Homo sapiens: one gene and its partners. The protein of the gene in region 1 purifies or fractionates together with the protein of each later gene. This does not show direct contact. Each region holds a gene or a part of one and is shown in the gene's direction. Other genes may lie near its edges. The genes, in order: ARHGAP18, EDC3, SYNRG, NBR1, MRI1, CLINT1 and BMP2K.

Region 1 (3,500 bases):
GAACAATGGAGACTTAAGGAAAGAGATTCACAAACATGTCTAGACTTAGGCTTGTTGGCCCCTGTCCTAATTCCCACCCATCGCCACCCCAAGGTTGCTACTGGGGAGAGAGTATAGTGATTGTTTATTCATGTATGCAACCAGCATTAATAAAGTTTGTAATCAAGGCAGGAAGAATCATCTTTAAAGGAATAAAACTGGCTTATTAGCATATTAAAGCTAAGTGCTCAGTTATACTGCATTTATTTGCAGCAATAAACAATTAAGTTCCTTGCCTTTTTCTAACCAGTTGGAATTAAGCTGCTGGATAGATTCGCCCAGAGTTTAGTGACCCTCTCCCTTATGTACTATTAAAATCCTACTATTTTAAACAATTTTGGGAAAGGTTAGTTTAAATGTGAATGTTCACACACTATTATTTTGTTGTAATTTTAAAATTATTTTCAATATGTACAGTAAGTAAAACCAATCTGGCAAACAAAGAATTACTTCCTGGAAGTCCTTCTTGAGAGAAGCAATCTGAAAATTAGAATAGCAAAACAGTTATTCAACTATTGTCCTCACTCAAATTGTATTCTTTAAAAAAATTTATTGTTAGTCCATTCTCACGCTGCTTGTAAAGACATACCTGAGACTGGGTAATTTGTAAAGGGAAGAGGTTTAATTGACTCACAGTTCAGTATGGCTGGGGAAGCCTCAGGAAACTTAAATCATGGCAGAAAGGGAGGCAAACACACCCTTATTCACATGATGGCAACAAGGAGAAGTAACAAGCCAAAAGGGGAAAAGCCCCTTATGAAACCATCAGATCTCATGACAACTCACTCACTATCACGAGAACAGCATGAAAGTAACTGCCCCCATGATTAAATTACCTCCTGTTGGGTCCCCCCAGGACTCATGGGGCTTATGGGTACTACAATTCAAGATGAGATTTGGGTGGGGACATAGCCAAACCATATCAACCGTATATAAAGGAAAGGCATCAAAGCTGAAAAATTTCTTCTTTTAAGGAATCGGGCATGGTCTTCTCTATAAATAATAATAAAACAAAAAATTATTTTATTATATATAGGTTTTTATTATAAGCTCCTTTAATTCAATTTTAGAAGTAGGTAAGATATGAATTATAACAAAAAACATTGTTTACTTGAAGTTATACAAATACTCTTATTTATTCAATTTATTCTTCATAGATAATATCTGAGAGAGAAATGTTTGAGGTAATTCCAAGCTATTCAGAATTGCTAATAAATGAGTTTGTACCCCAGTTTTGAATTTTTAATACATATAAATCATGGGTCCATTTATAAATAAAGATTAGAAATTTCTTTCTACAGTAGATTATAACAGCAAACTTAAATCATCCTATTTATATTTTGATTTCAAAAATAAAATGGAAATTCAAATAGTGCTTCATCGGTTGAAGATATTTGCTGTATAAGAGTTGACTAAGTTTGGTTTATGAATATAAATGATAAACACAAGAATTATATAAAATTCATTCCCAATTAATAGTCTGTAATCAAGATTTAATGTGTTGCTTTTTAAAAACAAAGTTTCAGGTTTAAATGAGTCTTATGCCTGGGTGTGGTGGCTCATGCCTTTAATCTCAGTGCTTTGGGAGGTTGAGGTGGGAGGATCAGTTGAGGATCATTTGAGGCCAGGAGTTTCAGACCAACCTGGGCAACACAGCAAGACCCCATGTCTGCCAAAAAAAAAAAAATTAGCTGGGCAATATGGTATATACCTGTAGTAGTAGCTCCTCAGGAGACTGAGGTGGGAAGATCACTTGAGCCCAGTAATTTGGAATTAAAGTGAGCTATGGTCACATTGGTGCACTCAAACCTTGGCAACAGAGCAAGACCTTGTCGCTAAAAAATATATTTGAAAAATGAGTCTTCATTTAATGTAAATGGAAAAATAATTTACCATGTTGCTATTTGTACTTCCCCATACTTTTCTGTGGAGCATGAAACTGTTTATTCTACAAGCATATTATAATCCATAGTAAACTGTTCCAAAATATATATTCCTTTAGTTTTATTAAGGATAACTTAAGGAGTTAATAAATTCTCCAGCTTGTTGCTGTGATGTCTTAGAAATTATACTGCTTCCTTTTGTACTAAAATAAACCATGGGTTCTTTTGAATTTACAGTCGCAGATATGGCCAGTACACTATGAACCAGGAAAGCACCACCATCAAAGTTATGGAGAAGCCTCCATTTGATCGATCAATTTCCCAGGATTCTTTGGATGAACTATCTATGGAAGACTATTGGATAGAACTAGAAAACATCAAGAAATCTAGTGAAAACAGCCAAGAAGATCAAGAGGTGGTTGTTGTCAAAGAGCCTGATGGTAATAACTAACTAAATAAAGCTTTTGTTGTTTGTATATGTATTTATAGGAAATGAATGCATAGAAAGGAAGAGAACAAAAAAAAAATTAAAGCTAGGACCACCAAAAAAAGATACTGCCTTTCAACTTGAAAAATACTTGTTTGAGGCAGATTTATGGATGCAACTGCCAGATACAAGTGGCATAAGTAAGTTAGCTTAGTCATAGATATGGCTGGAATGTTGTTGGCTAAGCTCACTGTATCATAGCTTTTTAGAGTTAGACTTCATCTTTGAAACCATCTAACCTCCCTTTAAATTTCTTCTGTGATGTGGTAGCCACATTGTCATTTGGTCTCTAGTGAGTGCAGATGGTGATAGAGCACTGCTTTGCAGTGAGACTGTTTTTCCAGTGGTCAGTCAGCTTGAGTTCTTTTGATCTTTGTTTTATTGATTTATAATCTGCTGTCCTCTAACTTTGACTCTCTTGCTGTAGTTATGCCTTTGGGACGAACAGAAGAAGGCTCTTCTATTTTTACATGATAGCCTTTCATATACTTGAGAATATTTATCTTGTTCCTAGCCAAGACATTTCTAGAAAGAAAATTCACATAAACCAATTTTTGTGGGTGGTTTTCAAAGACCTGTTGTGGTCCTGGCTATTTTGTCATTCAAAGTATACTTCTCCAGATTGGATGCAACGGCTCATGTTTAGCCAACTAATCTAAAAATATAGAGTTGGACAGTAGATGGTGGCATTACTGTTTTTAGCTTCCATATTTACTTCTTTCTTGTATTTGGTGCATAATTTCTGTAGAGTCACTTTCCAGCCATATTTCCCATTCTCTGCTATAATATTTGATATTCTGGGAGAAACATGTAAAACTTTAAAGTTTTTTTGTACCGTTTCTTTTAATCTCTGAAATTCAAGCAGTTGCTAAGTTTTTCATGTCCAATTCTCTTGTCTGTTGTATTAGCTTTCTTTCTATGCCTTGTGCCATCTATACATTTGTAAGTATGTTTATATAAGTTGATGTATAAATGCCAAAATGTGAGAGCCCCAATCAGTGCTTTGTGATCCACTAATAGAGACTTCCTTCTCAACACAATGACTTCTTAACTAAATGACTTAGGATCTAATTAACTAGCAAAATCTATAT
Region 2 (3,500 bases), on another chromosome or scaffold:
TGAAAATCTTTTTTCTTTTAGCAGAAATTGTTGATTTGTTAGAAGTTCAAATAGGCAGTTTATAATCTTCCGTGCACTTGAAGATGACCCTTATTAGCAATTCATATTATTTTTTTCTACACATTTTTCCCCGTTATTAACGTCTTACATTTGTATGGTATACTTGTTATAATTATTGAACCAATGTTGATGCATTATCATTAAACAAAGTCCATATTTTATTCAGATTGCCTTAGTTTTTACCCGGATGCCCTTGTTTCAGGATCCTGTCCAGCATATCACATCATATTTGGTAGTCATTTCTCTGCTTGGCTCTTACAGTTTCTCAGACCTTCCTTGTTTTTGATGACCTAGACATTTTGATGAATACTGGTCAGGTATTTTGTAGAATGTCTCTCAGTTGGTACTTGATGTTTAAATCATGATTAGACTGGGGTTATATGTTTGGGGGTGGAAGACAACAGAGGTAAAGTACCATTTTCATCACCTTGTGTCAAGTGTATATATTATCACCATGGTTTATAACTTTTGATGTTCACCTTGATCACCTGGCTAAAGTAGGATATATCTAGTTTCTCCTCTGTAAAGTGACTCTTTCTTCCCCTTTACATATGTACTCTTTGGAAGGAAATCACTATGTGCAGCCCACACCCAGGGAGTGAGAAGTTATGTCCCCTCTCCTTGAGGACACAGCATCTTCAGACATTACTTGGAATTCTTTTATGCCAGAGATTCCTCTCTTCTCCCCCATTTGTTTATTTATTCAGTCATTTATTTATATCAGCATGTACTCATGGGTATTTATTTTATACTTTGGCTTATAATTCAATATTACTTTATTTTGGTACTCAAATTATTTCAGTTTTGGCTAGTCTCCAATCTTTCACTTGGATCTCATGTCCCTTTGACATACTCCAATCATTGTGGATTTTATTTTTTTTTTTTTTTAGTACTTAGGTACTTTCTCACACTGAAAGATGCTTACTACTACCACTACTACTACTACTACTGCTGCTGCTGCTGCTTCTCCTCCTCCTCCTCCTCCCTCCTCCTCCCTCCACCCCCTCCCTCTCCCCCTCCCTCCTCCCCCCTTCTCCTTTCTTTCTTCTTCACTAGGGATGCTCATTGCTCCTGGGTGTCACCCTTATAGCTGACAGCAAGAAAATGTGTATACTTCTCTGCAGAGTTCACAGAAAAGAAAATATATGTGTGTATATTTAACCAGCATATATATACATATTTAAATATTTCTATATGTAACTATGTATATTGTACTATACTAAGTATGAGTTCATACTGATGTCTCCAACTTTAATCCATTACCACATGGATCCTTCTAGCCTTCTCCTTTTGCTTGTCTGTTACTTCTCACTCCAACAGTGAGAAACCTGTCTCCTATTGTCATTCATTCTTTACATAATTATTCAATTCCAGTATACATGTATAGTGGTATCAGAATTATTAACTTGTATCGCCATTCCTGTGGGAGACTATCAAACAGAATGTGGTGCTTACGTACTGTTTCTTTTGCCTTTCATCTGACTCCATTCATTTCTAGAGTTATTTAGGTCTCCCATTTCCTTCATTGACTTGTTTCATATATTCATAATACAATTAATTTGTTTTATCACATTCTGCATTCCATCCTGGGATCTTCTAACCTCCTAAATGATTTTTAAAAATTTGCAAACACTAAGGCTCACTCTTTGTGCTGTAAAATTCTGTGGGTTTTGACAAATACATAGCATCATGTATCTGTCATTACAGTATTAAACAGAATAGTTTCATTGTCCTAAACAATCTCTTGTGCCTTACCTGTTCAACTTCCCCCACTTCCCCCTGGCAACTACTGATCTTTTTATTATACCATCCCTGCAGTTTTGCATTTTTCCAGAATATCACATAATTAAAATCATACAGTATGTAGCCCTTTTCAGACTGGCTTCTTTCACTTAGCAAGATGCATTTAAGATTCATTCATGTCGTTTTGTGACTTGATAGGTCATTTCTTTAATTGACGGATAATGTTCCATTGTGTGGATATATCAATTTGTTTACCCATTCACCTATTGCAGGACATCTTGGTGGCTTCCAGGTTTTGGTTATTCTGCTTTTGCTGTTTTGTCAGTTTCCTTTTTCTAGATTGTTAACTGTACATAAATGAGGTAAAGAGATCATAGGGCAGTAAAATGTTACTATTTTTCAAGAAACTTATGTAGAATCCAGATTAGTTTGGAAAATGTTTGTGGCCTGGGAATGGCAATAAGACGTGGCTCAGAATAGGTTTCTGATAGAAGGTAGAGTTATAATTATTTTTCCACTCATTGAGCCCTGTAAGTAAAAAGGTCTGCCTTAGAATTTTCTCCAGTTTATGTACATTGATATTGAGACTAGTAGATTGATGAAGCTATAGAAATATAATCTGTCGGCCGGGTGTGGTGGCTTATGCCTGTAATCTTAACACTTTCGGAGGCTGGGACGGGCAGGTTGCCTGAGCTCAGGAGTTTGAGACCAGCCTAGGCAACATGGTGAAACCCCGTCTGTACACAAATACAAAAAATCAGCTGGGTGTGGTGGTGGGTGCCTGTAATGCCAGCTACTCAGGAGACTGAGGCACAAGAATTGCCTGAACCTGGGAGTCGGAGGTTGCAGTGAGCTGAGATTGTGCCACTGCCCTCCAGCCTGGGCAACAAAGCAAAACTCTGTCTCAAAAAAAAAAAAAAAAAGGAAAGAAAGAAATATAATCTGTCTTCAGTTCTGGCTTTTAAGTGTTCTTTCAGGATTGCAATAAGGAGTTGAGGAATTTGTTGGTTTATAATAGTTAGCTAATCCAACACTGATGATTTAGCACAAGCAGATTTTAATCTCTTTTCGGGTGGGAGTGGGTTTAAAGAATCATGTAAAGAATAGTTTTTCTGTGACCATTCAGAATGTTTGTCAAATAGACATAACATCAGTCCCAGGGAGCAGAGGGAAACCAAGCCTTGTTTAGGGTGCAGCTCTGTGTATGGGTATAATTCATATTTATCAAATCCCATGTCACAGCTGAAAATGGTGACCATGAGGGGCAGATGAAAGGCATCCCTCTCTGAAATCTTAGTCTATGAGCTTGAATAGTCATTGTAACATGCAGTTGAATAAAAATTTAACAGTTAAGTTAAGGCTCTTTTGCCTGTAGAACATGAAAGTAGATAGCTGAGGCTGGGCATGATGGCTGATGTCTCTAATCCCAGCACTTTGGGAGACTGAGGTGGGCAGATCACCTGAGGCCAGGAGTTCGAGACCAGACTGGCCAACATGACGAAACCCTGTCTCTACTAAAAATACAAAAAATTAGCTGGGCCTGGTGGTGCATGCCTGTAATCCCAACTACTTGGGAGGCTGAGGCAGGGAGAATTGCTTGAACCCGGGAGGTGGAGGCTGCAGTGAGCCGAGATCGTGCCATTGCACTCCAGCTTGGGCAACAAGAGTGAAACTGCATCTCAAAACAAACAAAGTAG
Region 3 (3,500 bases), on another chromosome or scaffold:
CCACTTTGGGAGGACCACTTGAGCCCAGGAGTTCAGGATCAGCCTGGGCAACATAGGGAGATAATCATCTTTACAAAAAAATCAAAAAATTAGCTGGGCGTGGTGGCATGCACATGTGGCCCCAGCTATTTGAGAGGCTGAGGATCTCTTGAGCCCAGGAATTCAAGGCTGCAGTGAGCTGTGATCACGCCACTGTACTCCAGCCTGAGCAACAGAGTGACTGGACGGCTTTCCAAGATTGAGACCTACCCTTTTAACCATTGTGTGTGTGTGTGTGTGTGTGTAGTGAATTAGATAATGCATATAAAGAGCTTAGTATAGTGCTTGAAAGTAAGGGCGTATTAGCTGTTGTTCTATTTATGGTCTTTAGCTGGTGACCTTCAGATCTCTCCACAAGCAGGAGGCCTGTATGTGTATCCAACCACCTGCTTATATAGCATGTGGCCTTCGCTGTCCCACAGGCAGCTCCAGCTCAGCTTGGACCAAACTGAACTCTTCTCCTCAGCTTCCATCCTCAAACCTGGTCCTTCTCTCACGTGTCTTATTATGGTGAATCCTCTCAGCTGCCCGGGTCCCCCAACCTCTCCCATCCAGCAGGTCACCCAGGCCTGCTCATTCTCCTGCCTCGTCAGCTCTTTCACGTGCCCATTTCTCTCCATTCCCCACCGCCGCTGCCTTCATTCTGACCATCGGTATCTGTCTCCAGGACTGCTACAGCAGACTTCTGGCTGAGGCCTGTGCCCTGAGGATTGCCACCCCCAATTCATTGCCTATACTGTAGCGAGAGGGATCTGTCAGTAATACGAACCTGGGCCTGTCGTGATCCAGTTGGAAGCCTTAGTGGCTTCCAGGATGCTCCTTATCTTCCTTGGAGTCCTCGTGCTGCGGCTTCATCTCCTCTTTCCCTGGGCCCTGCCCCCACCCTCTAGATTCCTTCCCATACCCCATCTTTAGCTCAGAGCCTTTGCCTGTGCTGCTTGTTCTGCATAGAATATCCTTCCCTCCCCTACCTCACCCAACCCTCCTGTCCCCCTCACCTAGCAGCTCCCATCTACACTCAGCCAAGGTGATTTTAGAATCTAGGAAGCAGGCCAGGCACGGTGGCTTATGCCTGTAATCCCACCACTTTGGGAGGCTGAGGCGGGTGGATCACCTGCAATCAGGAGTTCAAGACCAGCCTGACCAACATGGTGAAGCCCTGTCTCTACTAAAAATACAAAATTAACCAGACGTGGTGGCGCGCCTGTAATCCCAGCTACTCAGAAGGCTGAGGCAGGAGAATCGCTTGAACCCGGGAGGCAGAGGTTGCCGTGAGCTGAGATCACACCATTGCACTCCAGCCTGGGCGACAGAGTGAGACTCTGTCTCCAAAAAAAAAAAAAAAAGAAAAGAAAAAGTTCTAGGACGCAGTCTCTGGCTTCAGGCCCCATCCTCCTCGAGTTGGGCTAAGTGCCGCTCCCTTGTGCCCTGGCACTCAGGACTTCCCCCAAGTAAGCACACCCAGCACTCATGGCACTGCACGGGCTCCCCTGGCGCCCACCTGAGACTGAGTTCTCAGAGGTCAGAGGGCGTGTTGTACTGGTGCCGGCCTTCCTAGCACCTGGAACCGTGGCAGGTTCCCAGTGGATGTGTGGGAGGTTAATTCTTGTAGTGGTGGTGTTAGAGTACTGTACTTGCCGCTAGGCCTGCTGGGGGTGAGTGATGAGGGAGTGAAGTGAACAGCGTGTGGACTTGTGGACTTCTTACCCATTTGTCTTGTCGTCCTCACAGCCAGATGAAAACTCGCTGGATTTTTCCTCCTGTATGTTACGGCCTGGGATTAAAAATGCTCAGGAGCTTGCCTGTGGAGTGTGCCTCTTGAATGTGGACTCGAGGAGCCGGGTAAGTCACGCAGCCTCCTTGCAGACAGCAAAGGGCTTCCCTAACATGACTCTGGACAACCTCATCTGGCCCACTTTACTGCAGAGTTTGTGACCAGAGGTGGGGATTTTCTCAAGTCCTAAAAGCTGATGGTAGGAGCAGACACATTCCCTCGAGAGGGCAGCGGGGGAGCTGTGGAGGGAATGGACGCGGCTCTCATGCCTGCAGCACCCTGTGCATAGTGGGGAGGTCAGGGGAAAAGGGTGAACCTGTAAAGATGTGTTTGGAGGCAAGAGGCCCTGTTCTGGGAATGTTGTTGACCTGTGGTTTCAACGTTATTTCAGAAAGAAGAGAAGCCTGCAGAAGAACATCCTAAAAAAGTATGAACCAGTTACACCTTATCTTAGCGTCTCCATTTTAATTTTGAGTGTGGAGGGCAAATTGGATGATTCTATCCATTGCCATCCTGAACTGTTCCAATCATGAATCCTTCACTGAGTCAGTTTTGTTCCCATAATGTTTGATGGAGTCTCCTAATGTGTCTGTGTGGGTCCACTTCTGTCTTATTTGCATGCTTGTTTCACATAATTGGCTTCTGGTGTTGCAGTTATTTTTCTCTGTGATGAATGGGGTGACAGAATGAGCAACTTCTGGAAGCCTGGAAGTTGTAGTGACACACAGATGGAGATCAAAGAGCTTCAGGATGTAGCCATTTAGCCATTTTAACAGACAAGCAGCAAATTGGGTTTTAGAGTTTTGTTTATTTGCAGTGCATATTAGAAAACTAACCCCAGGAAGTGGTTGAGGTTTGGACTCTACTTTTCCATGGCTGACTGTAGCTTACTGATAAGCCTGTTCATCTGGAAATAATTCTTATGTGTTTAATGCCCATTCATTTCGAGGCATTTTTTTTTAACTCCATACCTGTTTGGACTTTTTGATAATGTAGATTCATTAGGCATTAGGGTCAATGCCATTAGACCCTAAGAGTTGTTATCTGTCGTTCTCTAACTCTCTCGTTTTCTAACTCTCTCGTTCTCTAACTCTCTTGTAATTTTTTGTCATGATAGGCTTGTGGTCAGCTACAGGAGTGTAAAGGATTGCATGCTGTAGTCAGATGCCGGCCTTAGGAGGAGGGCTTCCTTCAGCACAGTGAGGGATGAAAGCTATCCACAGCCCTTGGCTACTTCAGTTCCCCTTATCATGATTCCCCCCCTCCACCCCATAACCTCTGTCTGCCTTTTCCATGGAAGATTTGGCCACCTTTTGCTGAAACTAGGTTTAGTGGTAACAATTTTATACCTTTAATTAGCAGTAAAAAACCTTCTCTCTTGAATTCCTGTAGCTATCCGCTCAGCTTTTATGTGTGTGCCATTTTGGCCTCAGCCTCTGTGACCTGGAGAGATAGATGTACATGTTGGTTGCTGAAAAGCTCTGAGATGCAGAAAAAGCCTGACTTGCCCCACATCTCTGTTTATTTCTGGCAGGCATTCAACTCAGAAACAGACAGTTTCAAGCTGGCCTATGGAGGGCACCAGTATCACGCCAGCTGTGCCAACTTCTGGATCAACTGTGTCGAACCAAAGCCTCCTGGCCTCGTCCTGCCTGACCTGCTCTGAACAACTCCTCTGTGAAGCATT
Region 4 (3,500 bases), on another chromosome or scaffold:
CACGTTGGGAGGCCGAGGTGGGCGGATCATGAGGTCAGGAGATGAAGACTATCCTGGCTAACACGGTGAAACCCCATCTCTACTAAAAATACAAAAAATAAGCTGGGTGTGGTGGCGGGCGCACCTGTAATCCCAGCTACTCGGGAGGCTGAGGCAGGAGAATGGCGTGAACCTGGGAGGTGCAGCTTGCAGTGAGCTGAGATCATGCTACTGCACTTCAGCCTGGGCAACAGAGTGAGACTCCATCTCAAATCAATCAGTCATGTATATCTTTATATTTTTTTCCACATGTGTGTACAAATACATAACAAAAAGGTCTGGAAAGACAGTACCAAAATGTTCACAGCTGTTATTCTGATAGGATTTATGGGTAATTTTTTTTTTTTTTTTGAGATAAGGTCTCACTCGCCCAGGCTAAAGTGCGAGTAGCAAGTTTATGGCTCATTGCAGCCACAACATCCTGGGGTCCCCCTACCTCTGTTTCCCAAGCAACTGGGACCACAGCCACATGCTACCACAATGAGCTAAATTTTTTTTTTTTTGTAGAGATGGGATTTCGCCACGTTGCCCAGGCTGGTCCCAAACTTCTGAGCTCAAGCAGTCTGCCTGCCTTGGCCTCCCAACGTGCTGGGATTTTAGGCGTAAGCCACCACACCTGGCCTGGGTAGCTTTTTTTTTTTTTGGGACACAGTCTCTGTCACCCAGGCTGGAGTGCAGCAGCGCGGTCTCGGCTGACTGCAACCTCCGCCTTCCCAGGTTCACACCATTCTCCTGCCTCAGCCTCCCGAGTAGCTGGCACTACAGGCGCCCGCCACCATGCCCGGGTAATTTTTTTGTATTTTTAGTAGAGATGGGGTTTCACCGTGTTAGCCAGGATGGCCTTGATATCCTGACCTCATGATCTGCCCACGTTGGCCTCCCAAAGTGCTGGGATTACAAGCGTGAGCCACCGTGCCTGGCCCTGGGTAGCTTTTTTCTATCCTTTTTTACCCTCTCAAACATGATTGGCCAGTTTTCTCCCATGACTGCATCATCTTTGTAAAGAAGAGGAGGAGATAGACATATAATCCTGCAATACTCATCTCCTAACTTTTTCTCTTTTTATAGCACTGTTAGTGTATCAGTTTTGGTTTAAACTCTACTCAGTATATTAACCATCACATAAAAAGGAAAAAAGGGATGGAGCTGCCTCCTTTTATGATTCATAGAGCTTCTTGGAAACCTGAGTGTTTCTGCCTACCTTGTTTCTGTGAGCTTTGATTCTATTTTGTTTTGCATAGTCTTCAAACTTAGAATATGGTCATAGTTCCAGAACCAGCCCTTCCCTTTAGTTCTTCCCTCTCCTCTGGCTTTCATAATTCTAGCTTATGATCCACAAGGCTTTACCAAGTAAGGATAGTACTTAGGCCTGCTTTTAGCTTCCACCTTAAAATTGGTTGCTTTCATCCTTTAGTGACATTTGCCTTGCCTGAAGGACCACTTGGAAATGAGAAGGAGGAGATTATCCATATCGCTGAGGAAGAAGCTGTCATGGAGGAGGAGGAGGATGAGGAGGATGAGGAGGAGGAGGATGAGCTCAAAGATGAAGTTCAAAGTCAGTCCTCTGCTTCCTCAGAGGATTACATCATCATCCTGCCTGAGTGCTTTGATACCAGCCGCCCCCTGGGGGATTCTATGTACAGCTCTGCGCTCTCACAGCCAGGCCTGGAGCGAGGTGCTGAAGGCAAGCCTGGGGTTGAGGCTGGGCAGGAACCAGCTGAGGCTGGGGAAAGACTCCCTGGAGGGGAGAACCAGCCACAGGAGCACAGCATAAGTGACATCCTCACGACCTCACAGACTCTGGAAACAGTGCCCCTAATCCCAGAGGTAGTGGAGCTTCCACCGTCACTGCCCAGGTACCACTCACAGCCCCCTCAGCTGGGGTGTTCTTCAGAGGTGAAATAAAGAGAGGAATCGACCTGATCTCAAAACCTGTTTTTTCCTCAGTATGGAAAGAGACTATTTTCCATAGCAAAGTCTGAATTTAGATGAATAAAAGTTGTATTTCCCAGTATTTGTGGATTCTGGATTTAAAGAAATATTTGTTTTAGTTGGCCTTAAATTATCTGAGTATAGTCTGTCTGCTTATATTTTGATTATTGAGAGCTGGTTGTGTTTTTTTTTTTTTTTTTTTGAGACAGGGTCTCAGTCTGTTGCCCAGGCTGGAGTGCAGTGGCACAATCTTGGCTCACTGCCACCTCTGCCTCTGAGGCTCAAGCAATCTTCCCACCTCAGCCCCCTGAGTAGCTGGGACTATAGGCATGGGCCACCACACCTAGCTAATTTTTGTATTTATTGTAGAAGCGGGGTTTTGCCACGTTGTCCAGGCTGGTCTTGAACTCCTGGCCTTAAGCGATCCAACTGCCTGGGTCTCCCAAAATGCTGGAATTACAGGTGTGAGCCACTATGCCTGGCTGAGAGCCAGTTTTTAAACACAAACATCCCTGGACCTTCCCTCCTTGTTTTATTGACTCTTCAGTAAAGGCAGCAAAAACTCAACCCAAACAGTCATAATTAGGAAGTTAAATCCATTATGGGAAAAAACACTATAAAACCAAACTAATTATTTTTAATTCTCTGGTGAATCTATCTGAATCATTCTTGTCTCCTAATAGTAGGGAAAATGCTGGAGCCTTGACTATAATGTAAACCATTCTCCCCAAAAGCTAGACATTTCCGTTTATTGACACCACTTGATATAGGTGGGGACATGACCAGACTGAAGCCAACATTTCTAGCTTGCCTGTGGCTAAAGAGGAAAATGGGGTAGAATGTAGCCCTTATGATGGAACCCTAAATCCAGACATGTGATCTGGATCAGAAATGTGAAGCCTCTGTAGAGAATTTGGCACTGCTGTGCTGTGTTTACTATTTCTCCACTGTTGCCATAAGTGCCTTTTCAATTTACTTTCCATATTGTGTCTTTCTGAAAGGAGCTCTCCTTGTGTACATCATCATGGTTCCCCAGGAGTGGATTTACCAGTTACCATACCAGAAGTTTCTTCAGTCCCTGATCAGATCAGAGGAGGTAATGATCAGCCTAAGCTTTTTCTCTTTTTCTCTGCTCCTGTCTAATGGAAACCAGGTATAAATAGCCTCTCTCTCTTCGTGATTCTTGGTGGTTTTTTGAAACTTGCCCTTCACAGGCCAGGCGTGGTGGCTCACACCTGTAATCCCAACACTTTGGGAGGCCAAGGCAGGCGGATCATAGGGTCAGGAGTTCGAGACCAGCCTGGCCAACATAGTGAAACCCTGTCTCTACTAAAAAATAGCAAAAATTAACCAGGCATGGTGGCGGGCACCTGTAATCCCAGCTACTTGGGAGGCTGAGGCAGGAGAATCACATGAACCTGGGAGGCGGAGGTTGGAGTGAGCCGAGATCGCACCATTGCTCTCCAGCCCGGGCAACAGTGCGAGACTCCGTCTGAAAAAAAAAAAAAAAAAACTTGCCCTTCACTCTC
Region 5 (3,500 bases), on another chromosome or scaffold:
AGACCCTGTCTCTATTTTTAAGCCTGTAATGCCAGCACTTCGGGAGGCCAAGGTGGGCGGATCGCTTGAGCTCAGGGGTTCAAAACCAGCCTGGGCTTCATGGCAAAACCCCATCTCTACAAAAAATACTAAAATTAGCTGGGTGTAGTGGTATGCACCTGTGGTCCCACCTATTCGGGAGGGGACTGAGATGGGAGGATTGCTTTTTATTTATTTATTTATTTTGGAGACAGAGTCTTGCTCTGTCACCCAGGCTGGAGTGCCATGGCACGACCTTGGCTCCTTGCAACCTCTGCCTCCTGGGTTCCAGCGATTCTTTTCAAGTATTTTCTTTCTTTCCTTTTTTTTTTTTTTTTTTTTTTTTTGAGACAGAGTCTTGCACTGTTGCCCAGGCTGGAGTGCAGTGGCGCAGTCTCGGCTCACTGCAAGCTCCGCCTCCCAGGTTCACGCCATTCTCCTGCCTCCGCCTCTCGAGTAGCTGGGACTACAGGTGCCCGCCACCACGCCCGGCTAATTTTTTGAACTTTTAGTAGAGATGGGGTTTCACCGTGTTAGCCAGGATGGTCTCGATCTCCTGACCTCGTGATCCATCTGCCTAGGCCTCCCAAAGTGCTGGGATTACAGGCGTGAGCCACCACGCCCAGCCCAAATATTTTCAATCCACATGGTTGAGTCCATGGATGGAGAACCCATAGAAAAGGGGGGCTGCCTGTACACATGAGGTGTTAGAAGGTGATAAATGCTAAGGACAGAGAGCAGGAAACTGAAAGTGTGGGGATTGCTATGCAAAACTGATATATCAGGGAAGGCTTCACCGAGAAGGTGTCCTTTAAACAGACGTGAAACGGAGCTATGCGAGCATTGGGAAGAGCATACCAGGCAGAGGGAACTGCCACTGCGAGGGCCCCTGGGCGGGACTGTGCTCGGTAAGCCTTTGGCAATCCACGCCCAGACTAGGAGCCTGCACCCCTAACCAATGGACCACCCTGTCTGTTTGCCCCTCCCCGGGGCCTTCTCCTGGTGGGTGGGGCCCCCGCAGGTGTGATTCGCTCACTGCACAGCCTGGGCCGCCTGGAGCATGCCTTCTGCACAGAGACCCGGCCCTACAACCAGGGAGCCCGGCTGACGGCCTTTGAGCTGGTCTATGAGCAGATCCCCGCCACCCTTATCACCGACAGCATGGTGGCTGCTGCCATGGCCCATAGGGGCGTGTCAGGTAAGCAGACGGTAAGCCCTGGGGGCGGGGCTCTGGAGCATGGGGCCAGGTAATGACCCCCAACTTCTCATACGCCCCCTCCCCAGCTGTGGTCGTGGGAGCTGACCGCGTGGTTGCCAACGGCGACACAGCCAACAAGGTGGGCACCTACCAGCTGGCCATTGTCGCCAAGCACCATGGCATTCCCTTCTACGTGGCTGCCCCCAGCTCTTCATGTGACCTCCGTCTGGAGACCGGCAAGGAGATCATTATTGAAGAGCGACCGGGCCAGGAGCTGACCGATGTTAATGGGGTCCGGATTGCAGCACCTGGTAAGCTGCCCCCTCAGAAAGGGGACACCCCAGCTCCTGGGCACTTCATGGAGGCAGGTGATATGCAGGTCCTTGTCATCCTTCTGGAACATACACAGCTCCTACAAGCCACTTTTTCTTTTTTCTTTTTTTTGAGATGGAGTCTTGCTCTGTCCCTCAGGCTAGAGTGCAGTGGCACGATCTGGGCTCCCTGCAACCTCCACCTCCCGGGCTCAAGCAGTTCTCCTGCCTCAGCCCCCCAAGTAGCTGGGACTATAGGTGGGTGCCACCACGCCTGGCTAATTTTTGTATTTTTAGTAGAGATGAGGTTTCAACATGTGGACCAGGCTATTTATTAACTACTGACCTCAAGCAATCAGCCTGCCTCTGCCTCCCAAAGCGCTAGGATTACAGGTGTGAGCCACAGCACGCCTGGCCCAAGCCACTTCTTCTAACAGGTGCATCCTGGAGGTCAGATCCAATGTTGGAATTTACAACTAACCGGTTATATGAATGATCTTGAGTAACTGTCTTGCTATTCTCCACTTAGGTTTTCTTAAGAGGAAATAAGAATATCTGGCTGGCCACGTGTTTGTAAAGAAAAACCAAGACGGCCAGGCGAGGTGGCTCACACCTGTAATCCCAGCACTTTGGGAGGCCGAGGCGGGCAGATCACAAGGTCAGGAGTTCGAGACCAGCCTGGTCAACATAGTGAAACCCCGTCTCTACTAAAAATACAAAAATTAGCCGGACATGGTGGCACCCGCCTGTAGTCCCAACTACTCAGGAGGCTGAGGGAGGAGAATCACTTGAACCTGAGAGGCGGAGGTTGTGGTGAGCTGAGATTACACCATTGCACTCCAGCCTGGGCAACAGAGTGAGATTCTGTCTCAAAAAAAAAAAAGAAAAGAAAAAGCAAGATATTTCTACACTTATTTTTATTTGTTTATTTTCATAGAGATAGGGTCTCGCTATGTTCCCCAGGCTGGTCTCAAACTCCTGGCCTCAAGCGATCCTCCTGCCTCAGCCTCCCAAAGCACTGAGATTACAGGTGTGAGCTCCCATGCCTAGCTGCAAGACTTTTCTTAGCTGCCTATACTTCCTGGCTGTGCAACCGTTAGCAAGTTCCCTAAATTCTCTAATTCCCTAAGATCCTCACTGGTCCTATCTGTAAAATGGGCTATGGCTAGAACCTGCTGCATAAACCCAAGGGCGGTCAGTGAATTAACCCACAGGACATTTAGATCAATGACTGGCCCTTTAAATAGTTCATGCACTCAGATGCCGTGGCTCACGCCTATAATCCCAACACTTTGGGAGGCGGAGGTGGGCGGATCACTTGAGGTCAGGCGTTCCAGACCAGCCTAGCCAACAGAGCGAAACCACGTCTCTACTAAAAAAATATAAAAATTAGCCAGGCGTGGTGGCACATGCCTGTAGTCCCATCTACTTGGGAAGCTGAGGCATGAGAATTGCTTGAACCTAGGACGCAGAGGTTGCAGTAAGTTGAGACTGCACCACTGCACTCCAGTCTGGGTGACAGAGCGAAACTCCATCTCAAAAATAAAAAAAAAGGCCGAGCGCTGTGGCTCACGCCTGTAATCCCAGCACTTTGGGAAGCCGAGGCGGGCGGATCACCTGAGGTCGGGAGTTCAAGACCAGCCTGACCAACATGGAGAAACCCTGCCTCTACTAAAAATACAAAATTAGCCGGGCGTGGTGGCACATGCCTGTAACCCCAGCTACTCAGGAGGCTGAGGCAGGAGAATTGCTTGAACCCGGGAGGCGGAGGTTGCAATGAGCCAAGATAGCGCCACAGCACTCCAGCCTGGGCAACAAGAGTGAAACTCCATCTCAAAGAAAAAAAAGAAAAAACAGTTCATGAAATATTAGCATGAACCAATATTAGCATTATGGGGCCAGGTAAAATGGCTCACACCTGAAATCCCAGTATTTTGGGAGGCTGAGGTGGGAGGATCACTTGAGCTCAGGAG
Region 6 (3,500 bases), on another chromosome or scaffold:
AGTTCAGTCTGAGGTAAATTGCATCAGCAGTTTAAAGGAGAATTTTAAACATTATATTCCAGAATATTTATAAATTAAACCACCTACTCTAAAATTAAGTAATACAGGTAATGGAACATGTTTCAAGTAACATTTCTCTCTTTCTCTCTCTTTCGCTCTCTCTCTCTCTCTCTCTCTCTCTCCTACTTACATCAGAAAAAAACCCAATGACTTGTTACTAGAGAACAGACTAGGGCTGATATTTTCATTCCTAGCATATGAAAAACCCAGGCTTTTACTGTTTAGTTTTTAAAATCTTTTTCACTATTAAAGAAAAAGGAAAGAAAAAATTGTTGAATGTGGCTGAAGGAGAATTATCTTTAAAATATTTTAAATACAGTTGTTTTCTAGAAAGCATTTTCTATAGTTATATAAAAGTTTGATCTCCTGATACTATAGTAAAATAGCACAGTTGTAAAGTGCATTCCCTTATATTTTCATGCATTTACAGATGAGTTTAATTATTCGAATTAAGATGTGTGATTTTTTTAGCATCCATTGAACTTTTATTATTTTATTATGTACACACATTAGTCTTTGAGAGTTGATGCAGAATTGTGTTGTAAAAGTGGAACTATAGTAATTTGCACACAGTCCATGTCAAGAAAATAATCATCACATGCAAGTGTTTGAACTCTCAGGGTCTTATCATGGATTCTGATATCAAATCCTATTTTATTTTTAAGTTAAGCTTAAATCTGTAATAAAAACGAGTTATTTTGACATTTTTTATTTATACACATTTATGTAAATACTTTTTTGTAGCAGTATTTTAGACTTATATAGGATATTCTCTGTGTTTCCACTTCCCCTCCCCAGCGCACATATATCATTATTCAGACAGCTTAGATAACATTCTGTTGATCCCTGTCAAGTAGTCAAAGTATGAAATTTTGGAGTTACTGTATTTGAAATTCTTTAGCTCAAATCACTGAGGGACCCATTTTAAAATAATCCCGTCTTATTATTTTGCTTCATTTTTAATATCTTTTAGCGACAGCGATGAGGAAAAGAAAGCGAGAAGAGGCAGATCTCCCAAAGGTGAATTCAAAGATGAAGAGGAGACTGTGACGACAAAGCATATTCATATCACACAGGCCACAGAGACCACCACAACCAGACACAAGCGCACAGCAAATCCTTCCAAAACCATTGATCTTGGAGCAGCAGCACATTACACAGGGGACAAAGCAAGTCCAGATCAGAATGCTTCAACCCACACACCTCAGTCTTCAGTTAAGGTGGGAATGGCAGTAGTTTACACATTATACATGGTTTTATTTTTATAAACCGCTCTTCGAATTCCTGCATTAGTAGGCTTGGGCATTTCTAGGCAATCATATTAATTATGGATCATCTGGCATGTATTACCAAGAGACATTAATAATAAGAAATCTCTTTGAGGGGAGAAACCTGTCCAATTGCTGAATGATTGGGTACTTTCTATGAAAGTAGAAATGACACTTTTGGTTTGTTTGGGGAAGGTTGTGAATCAGAATGTAGTGCCTCTGTCCCCATCTAGACAATACTGGTTACCAACCACAAGTAGATTCACTAAAGAAAACATTGGAAGTATTTGAAAGTTTTAAGAAATGACAAACGAGGGAGTAAGAAGAGATATATAGGGGCAAGTTATCTCATGTAATGTAGAAACGTTGCCTATAAAGGGAGGCGTGTTTGCCTCACAGTCATTACTGATCAGTATCAAAAGAAGCACTGCCTCTTGTACCATCTTCGTTTGTTTTTATTTACCATAGAGATGAAATCCACCTGCTAGGTACCTGGCCAAACCCTAGTCTTTTCAACAGAAATCTGCCAAATAGGGAGATTTGCCTCAAAAGACTAAATTATTGTTTTTGTCACTTTCCCCGACTACTGTTTCCCCAGTTTGTGTCTTTGCAAGAGAAATAGCTAAAAGCTGGGAAAAACAGTTTTCTAATGTATGCAGCAGATTGTAGGTGACTCTGAAAATAAAACCAGGCCTGCTTAGTTGCAATAACAAATACCATGTCAGCTTTTGCCAAATATCTGTATAATTTTTTTAATAATAGAGACTTTTATCACATATCTTAAAGGATTTTAAATAACAGTTTGTAGTATAGCCTGAATATATGACACTCTGCAATAAATATTTTATATTTGTAGTACAAGCTTTTTCTTTTTCTTTTTCTTTTTTTGGAAGACCGAGTTTCGCTCTTGTTGCCCAGGCTAGAGTGCAATGGCGCGATCTTGGCTCACCGCAACCTCTGCTTCCCAGGTTCAAGTGATTCTCCTGCCTCAGCCTCCCGAGTAGCTGAGATTACAGGCATGCACCACCATGCCCGGCTAATTTTTTTGTATTTTTAGTAGAGACGGGCTTTCTCCATGTTGGTCAGGCTAGTCTCGAACTCCCGACCTCAAGTGATCCACCTGCTTCGGCCTCCCAAAGTGTTGGGATTACAGGCTTGAGCCACCGCGCCCGGCAGTACAAGCTTTTTCTTTTTTGTTTTCATTTACCCTCCTCCCCTCAAAAAAAATGTCTAGAAGGTTGAAGTTCTTAGAAAGTTACCCAACTCATTTGGATCTGTTCTTAAAGGTGTTTTGGAATCACAGTATATAGTATTTTAGTTTTCAAAGTTCAAATCAACATGCCTAGGATCTTAGGGTTTCCCCATTGCCTAATAATTGAGTTCTAATTTAGCATGTATATATCTAACATATAGGACATAGGTATTTAGGTATCAGGGTGCTTAGCTTTGTGGAGAAGATAAAAATAGTATTACAGGTATAGGCCTCAGTTTAGTTGGGGAACTAAATATGAAACATATCAATATATCAAATAACATAGAATTATACTAACTTGTGTGATATACAAACAATAAGTTTTGCTAAGGTTCATAGAAATTTAGAGCTGTTTAGGATCTTGACCTCTAATCCAGTGGATCTCAAGCCTTGGAATTATCTAGGGAGCTTTCTTGTAAGACTTTAACAGGCCAAGGTCTTGGCCTTTTTATACCTGGGCAATTATGACTCAGTGTATTGTATGGGACTGGTACATATGCTAGGGTATTTTTTTTTTTTTTTTTTTTTAATGAACTGATACTTAGCATTAAGATTCAAGTGGGATCTGGCAGTTAATATTTTCCAGAGTGAAATGCAGTCAGAAAAGTGAGGTAGGAAAAAAAGTGTCAATGTTAAGAGACTTTTACACTGCTGGGAATGGAGGTACTTAAAAGTGCTTGCTGCCTCTCCATAAGGATTCAAGGTCAGTACTCTTTTTCCAGAAAACCCTACCCTTATTAAGCTAATTACAGGTATTTATGTCTAAATTGAGAATTAGAGATGGATAGAGCTGATTTTTAGAAAAACAAACTTTTCGAAGCTCCTGAGTTATGTGTGTGTTTTCAGACTTCAGTGCCTAGCAGCAAGTCATCTGGTGACCTTGTTGATCTGTTTGATGGCACCAGCCAGTCAACAGGTAA
Region 7 (3,500 bases), on another chromosome or scaffold:
CACTTGTATTTTCTCTGTAGTCTTTGCTCCTTGAACACTAGACAGCACTTTAGCACTACGCTTAGGGACTGTTTTCAACAGTGAAATCACCAATAGCAAGCACAAAAATGAGAAAAACATGGCACTAAATAGACCATGAAAAGGACACTTGTTTACACTATGTAAGCTGAAACTAGAATGTGCACGTCAGTAGACTCACATTTTTCACCATTGTGCACATGTCTGCAATGACAGTGGAAGTGCTATGAGTAATGATTTTGGGGATACAAATAAATGTTAGTGAGTAGATGAATTTGTAAATATAGTATCCTCAACTAATGAGGAGCAACCTTTGTTATAGGTAGATATGTATATGCACATATTATGTCTATAATTTGAAAAGCAGATTCTCAGGGGTAGGTTGTATGTTATAACTAAACTGTTAAAGTTTTCTCTCTGAAACATTATATACTTTGTATCATAATGTCTTTGTAGTCAAGCACATAAGTGTTTGAAAATAGAACTTGCACCTTTTTAGTTCCTCCTCAAAGTTTAAAGGACTGATAACATAGTGAGGCAGTTCATGTTTTTTTTCTCAAAAACATGTTTAGGAGTCTGTACTAAGCAGATCCCAGCTTTGGTCTGTAGAAATGAGGGAGAGCGGTATGTTGGTTTTAGCTTCAAACAGTGACAAATTGTCAGGCTCATATAATTAATTCAATGTAACCTTCCAAGTTTTTACTAAAACCTGGGGTTGGCTTGTTGACCACATGCATCACCATAACAAGCCTTTGGTGCTAGTCTGAGGAATTTAATACTGATTGATAATAAGTTGGTTTTTGAGTAGGGGACATTGTTTTCCCTAAATGTCCTTGGTACAAAATGGACCTAAAATGGGGTGTTGAGACTGGGAGAGCAGAGATAACTTGTTGAGATAATGTAATCACGAGGTTATGGGGGCTGGGTAGGAATGATAGTGTGAATATGGTGATGTGGGTAAGATTTACTGAGATGGGTGTTGGGGGTTATTGGATTGTTAGTAATTGGAGGCCAGGAATTTACTACAGGGTTCTTTAAAAATAGCTCAGTATTTCTCTTAGAGTTAAATGCTTAGATAAGCTAAGTATTAGCCAGTTCTCGTTGTTAATTTTTCAGGAAGGTTGTACTATACATCTGATTTTGCACTATAAATTAGTAGGGAAATGATAGATTTAAGCATTATATCTCATTTGCAGAAAGCATCTGTGGCTGCCCAGTAACTTGTAAGTTCACATTCCGAAGAGAAGATAGAGAGGATAGAAAAAAGGGAAGGATCGAATAAAAATATCAACAACTGTTACTACTACACAACTTCATTAAATGCCTTTGGTGTGCTAAGCACTGCTAGGTGCTACTTAACATAGTAGAGGACAATAGTGGAGGTATTCTTCTGGCCTATGAAACTTACAGATTAGTGTGGAAGGTAAAAGCTAAACAAGCCAACAAAAATCACCAAGTTACTATAGTTAAAATTTTTTATATGTGTCGTGAAGACAATGCTCAGGGTTTTATGAGAGAATTCAGTTTAGACTGGGGGGTCAAGGAAGGCCTTTTTGATCTTTTAGCAGAAACCTGAAGGATGAAGAAAGTTAGGTAAAAACAGAGGTGTGAGGTTGGGGTGATTTGAAGTATGTCATGAAGACTGAAGTCTCTGTGTGAGGGAAGGAAGTTTCAGAAACTGAAATATGCTCAGAGCTGTGGACTACAATGAATGAATCACATGTAAGAGAGATCCAAGATGATGTTGGCAAGGTGACCAGGGTCCGGGGCTTAGTATACCATGCTGAGGAGTTTAGGTTTTATCTGAAATGCAACAGGAAGCTATTGAAGGGTTTGAATTGGGGCAGTGACATGCTCTGATTTGTATTTTTACAAGATCATGCTGATTGCTGTATAGAGAGGTATACAAATTATAAGGTTAAAATGATGACAGTGGGGATGAAGATGATAATGCTTAAATGGGAAGACCTTGTGGTGGTCATAGGAAGTGTTAGGAATTACTTGCTTATGTATCTCTCAGGTGAAAGTACCGTTTGGGAACATAAGGAAGGAACAGATTTTTTTTTTTTTTTTTGAGGTGTTTGGAGGACAGCCAGTAGTTCAGACATGTTTAGAGATGTGTTTGGATGAGATATCTGAGAGGAAATATCAAATGGGAAGCTGGGTATGTCGTCTGGAACTCAGCAAAGGTGTTTGGGCTTAGAGATGGTACTTCTGATTGATTAGTGAGCCCTGGCTGTTATTTAAAGCCCTGGGAGAGGATGGATGTAGGGAGAGTGTAGAATGAGAAGGTGCTCATTGAAGGACTCCTATAGTGCATTGGTCTCAGACATTAGTGTTCATTGTAAACATTCAGAGGATTTGGTAAAACAGAAGTGCTGAGCCTGGTCCCCAACTTTTGATTATGTCTGAGTGAGGCCCACTCTTTCAGTGATACAGATGCTGCCGGTTCAGGAACCACGTCTTGAGTACCGAGTACCACTGATTTCGAGCGGGCGAAGAAGACTAAGAAGAAGGTGCTAGAGAGGTATGAGGAATACCAGGACACTCTGATACCTGGAAACTTGAGAGTATTTCAAGAAGGGGAGGGAGTGAGCAGTTGTGTTGCTGCAAAGTCATCTTACTTGATCACATTTTTTCGCCTGGCATTCACAGTTATTCATGCTCACTTCTTATCTTTAAAAGCTTACCTGTAATTATTTGCTAGGTGAATACTCTTTGCGCCTGGTGCAATGTGCTCCACTCCCTGTTGGTCCGTGACTGAATCTTGTACTTGCCTAGCACTCTGCCTTTGTCTCTGTAATCCCTGTTTCCTAAGTACTGGTTATGATCACTTCCTCCTTTCTGTGGACACTTGTAACTATTTGCTTTTTTCCCTCTTGTCACATTTAACCTGTCTTGAGATGGAATTATGTAAGCACCTAGAAACACTAAGGTTGTTAACTACTGTTCCTCTGTCATCTCCACTACCAGATAGTAAAATTCTTAAGGCTAGACAGACTCTGTTTTAATTGATGTTGTATCACACAAGTTGGCCATACCATGAACATTCAGCTACTTCTCAAAGGAAATGGTGCTTGATTTTTTTATTTTTAATCAGATGATGATCTTCAGTAGAATTTAAGGCCTAATTTGCAAATTGAAGAGCACCAATGGAGGGCTCTTTACTGGACCATCAAAGGTTTTGTACTTAGGCCAGAGGACTCTGTGTTTTCTAGTTTGGTGAAGACAAACAACCGTTAAGGCAGTGTCATTTCACTTAACAACTTGAAACAGGAAAGAAAAAAAATAACCCAGATGCCCCCTTGTAGTTATCTTGCTTTATTGACATTGTATTTTTATTTATTCTACAAAGGTGGCTGAGTTTTTAAAAAAGTATGTTACATGCAATTGTGAAATTGTTTTACATTTTGTGGTTAATTTTGACAGCTTTTTTTGGATGCTGAGCTTTTTGGGGGTAGAACCAAGGTCTATTCACCTGT

The links.
Region 2: the proteins of ARHGAP18 (region 1) and EDC3 purify together in Homo sapiens (affinity purification with mass spectrometry; one large-scale study listed by BioGRID and IntAct). This does not show direct contact.
Region 3: the proteins of ARHGAP18 (region 1) and SYNRG purify together in Homo sapiens (affinity purification with mass spectrometry; one large-scale study listed by BioGRID and IntAct). This does not show direct contact.
Region 4: the proteins of ARHGAP18 (region 1) and NBR1 purify together in Homo sapiens (affinity purification with mass spectrometry, with the first as the bait; one large-scale study listed by BioGRID). This does not show direct contact.
Region 5: the proteins of ARHGAP18 (region 1) and MRI1 fractionate together in Homo sapiens (co-fractionation; one large-scale study listed by BioGRID). This does not show direct contact.
Region 6: the proteins of ARHGAP18 (region 1) and CLINT1 purify together in Homo sapiens (affinity purification with mass spectrometry; one large-scale study listed by BioGRID and IntAct). This does not show direct contact.
Region 7: the proteins of ARHGAP18 (region 1) and BMP2K purify together in Homo sapiens (affinity purification with mass spectrometry; one large-scale study listed by BioGRID and IntAct). This does not show direct contact.

Annotation. Positions count from the first base shown.
Region 1 is NC_000006.12:129,640,678-129,644,177, reverse strand, and holds part of ARHGAP18 (rho GTPase-activating protein 18), read left to right. Parts: intron 1-2,159; coding exon 2,160-2,362; intron 2,363-3,500. UniProt on the Homo sapiens protein: Rho GTPase activating protein that suppresses F-actin polymerization by inhibiting Rho. Rho GTPase activating proteins act by converting Rho-type GTPases to an inactive GDP-bound state.
Region 2 is NC_000015.10:74,665,025-74,668,524, reverse strand, and holds part of EDC3 (enhancer of mRNA-decapping protein 3), read left to right. Parts: intron 1-3,500. UniProt on the Homo sapiens protein: Binds single-stranded RNA. Involved in the process of mRNA degradation and in the positive regulation of mRNA decapping. May play a role in spermiogenesis and oogenesis.
Region 3 is NC_000017.11:37,518,919-37,522,418, reverse strand, and holds part of SYNRG (synergin gamma), read left to right. Parts: intron 1-1,770; coding exon 1,771-1,881; intron 1,882-2,204; coding exon 2,205-2,240; intron 2,241-3,347; coding exon 3,348-3,479; 3' UTR 3,480-3,500. UniProt on the Homo sapiens protein: Plays a role in endocytosis and/or membrane trafficking at the trans-Golgi network (TGN). May act by linking the adapter protein complex AP-1 to other proteins. Component of clathrin-coated vesicles.
Region 4 is NC_000017.11:43,198,714-43,202,213, forward strand, and holds part of NBR1 (next to BRCA1 gene 1 protein), read left to right. Parts: intron 1-1,453; coding exon 1,454-1,895; intron 1,896-2,972; coding exon 2,973-3,067; intron 3,068-3,500. UniProt on the Homo sapiens protein: Ubiquitin-binding autophagy adapter that participates in different processes including host defense or intracellular homeostasis.
Region 5 is NC_000019.10:13,767,522-13,771,021, forward strand, and holds part of MRI1 (methylthioribose-1-phosphate isomerase), read left to right. Parts: intron 1-837; coding exon of another isoform or gene 838-926; exon of another isoform or gene 927-1,039; coding exon 1,040-1,216; intron 1,217-1,302; coding exon 1,303-1,527; intron 1,528-2,056; coding exon of another isoform or gene 2,057-2,076; exon of another isoform or gene 2,077-3,500.
Region 6 is NC_000005.10:157,803,646-157,807,145, reverse strand, and holds part of CLINT1 (clathrin interactor 1), read left to right. Parts: intron 1-1,033; coding exon 1,034-1,280; intron 1,281-3,426; coding exon 3,427-3,496; intron 3,497-3,500. UniProt on the Homo sapiens protein: Binds to membranes enriched in phosphatidylinositol 4,5-bisphosphate (PtdIns(4,5)P2). May have a role in transport via clathrin-coated vesicles from the trans-Golgi network to endosomes. Stimulates clathrin assembly.
Region 7 is NC_000004.12:78,779,350-78,782,849, forward strand, and holds part of BMP2K (BMP-2-inducible protein kinase), read left to right. Parts: exon of another isoform or gene 1-2,545; intron 2,546-3,500. UniProt on the Homo sapiens protein: May be involved in osteoblast differentiation.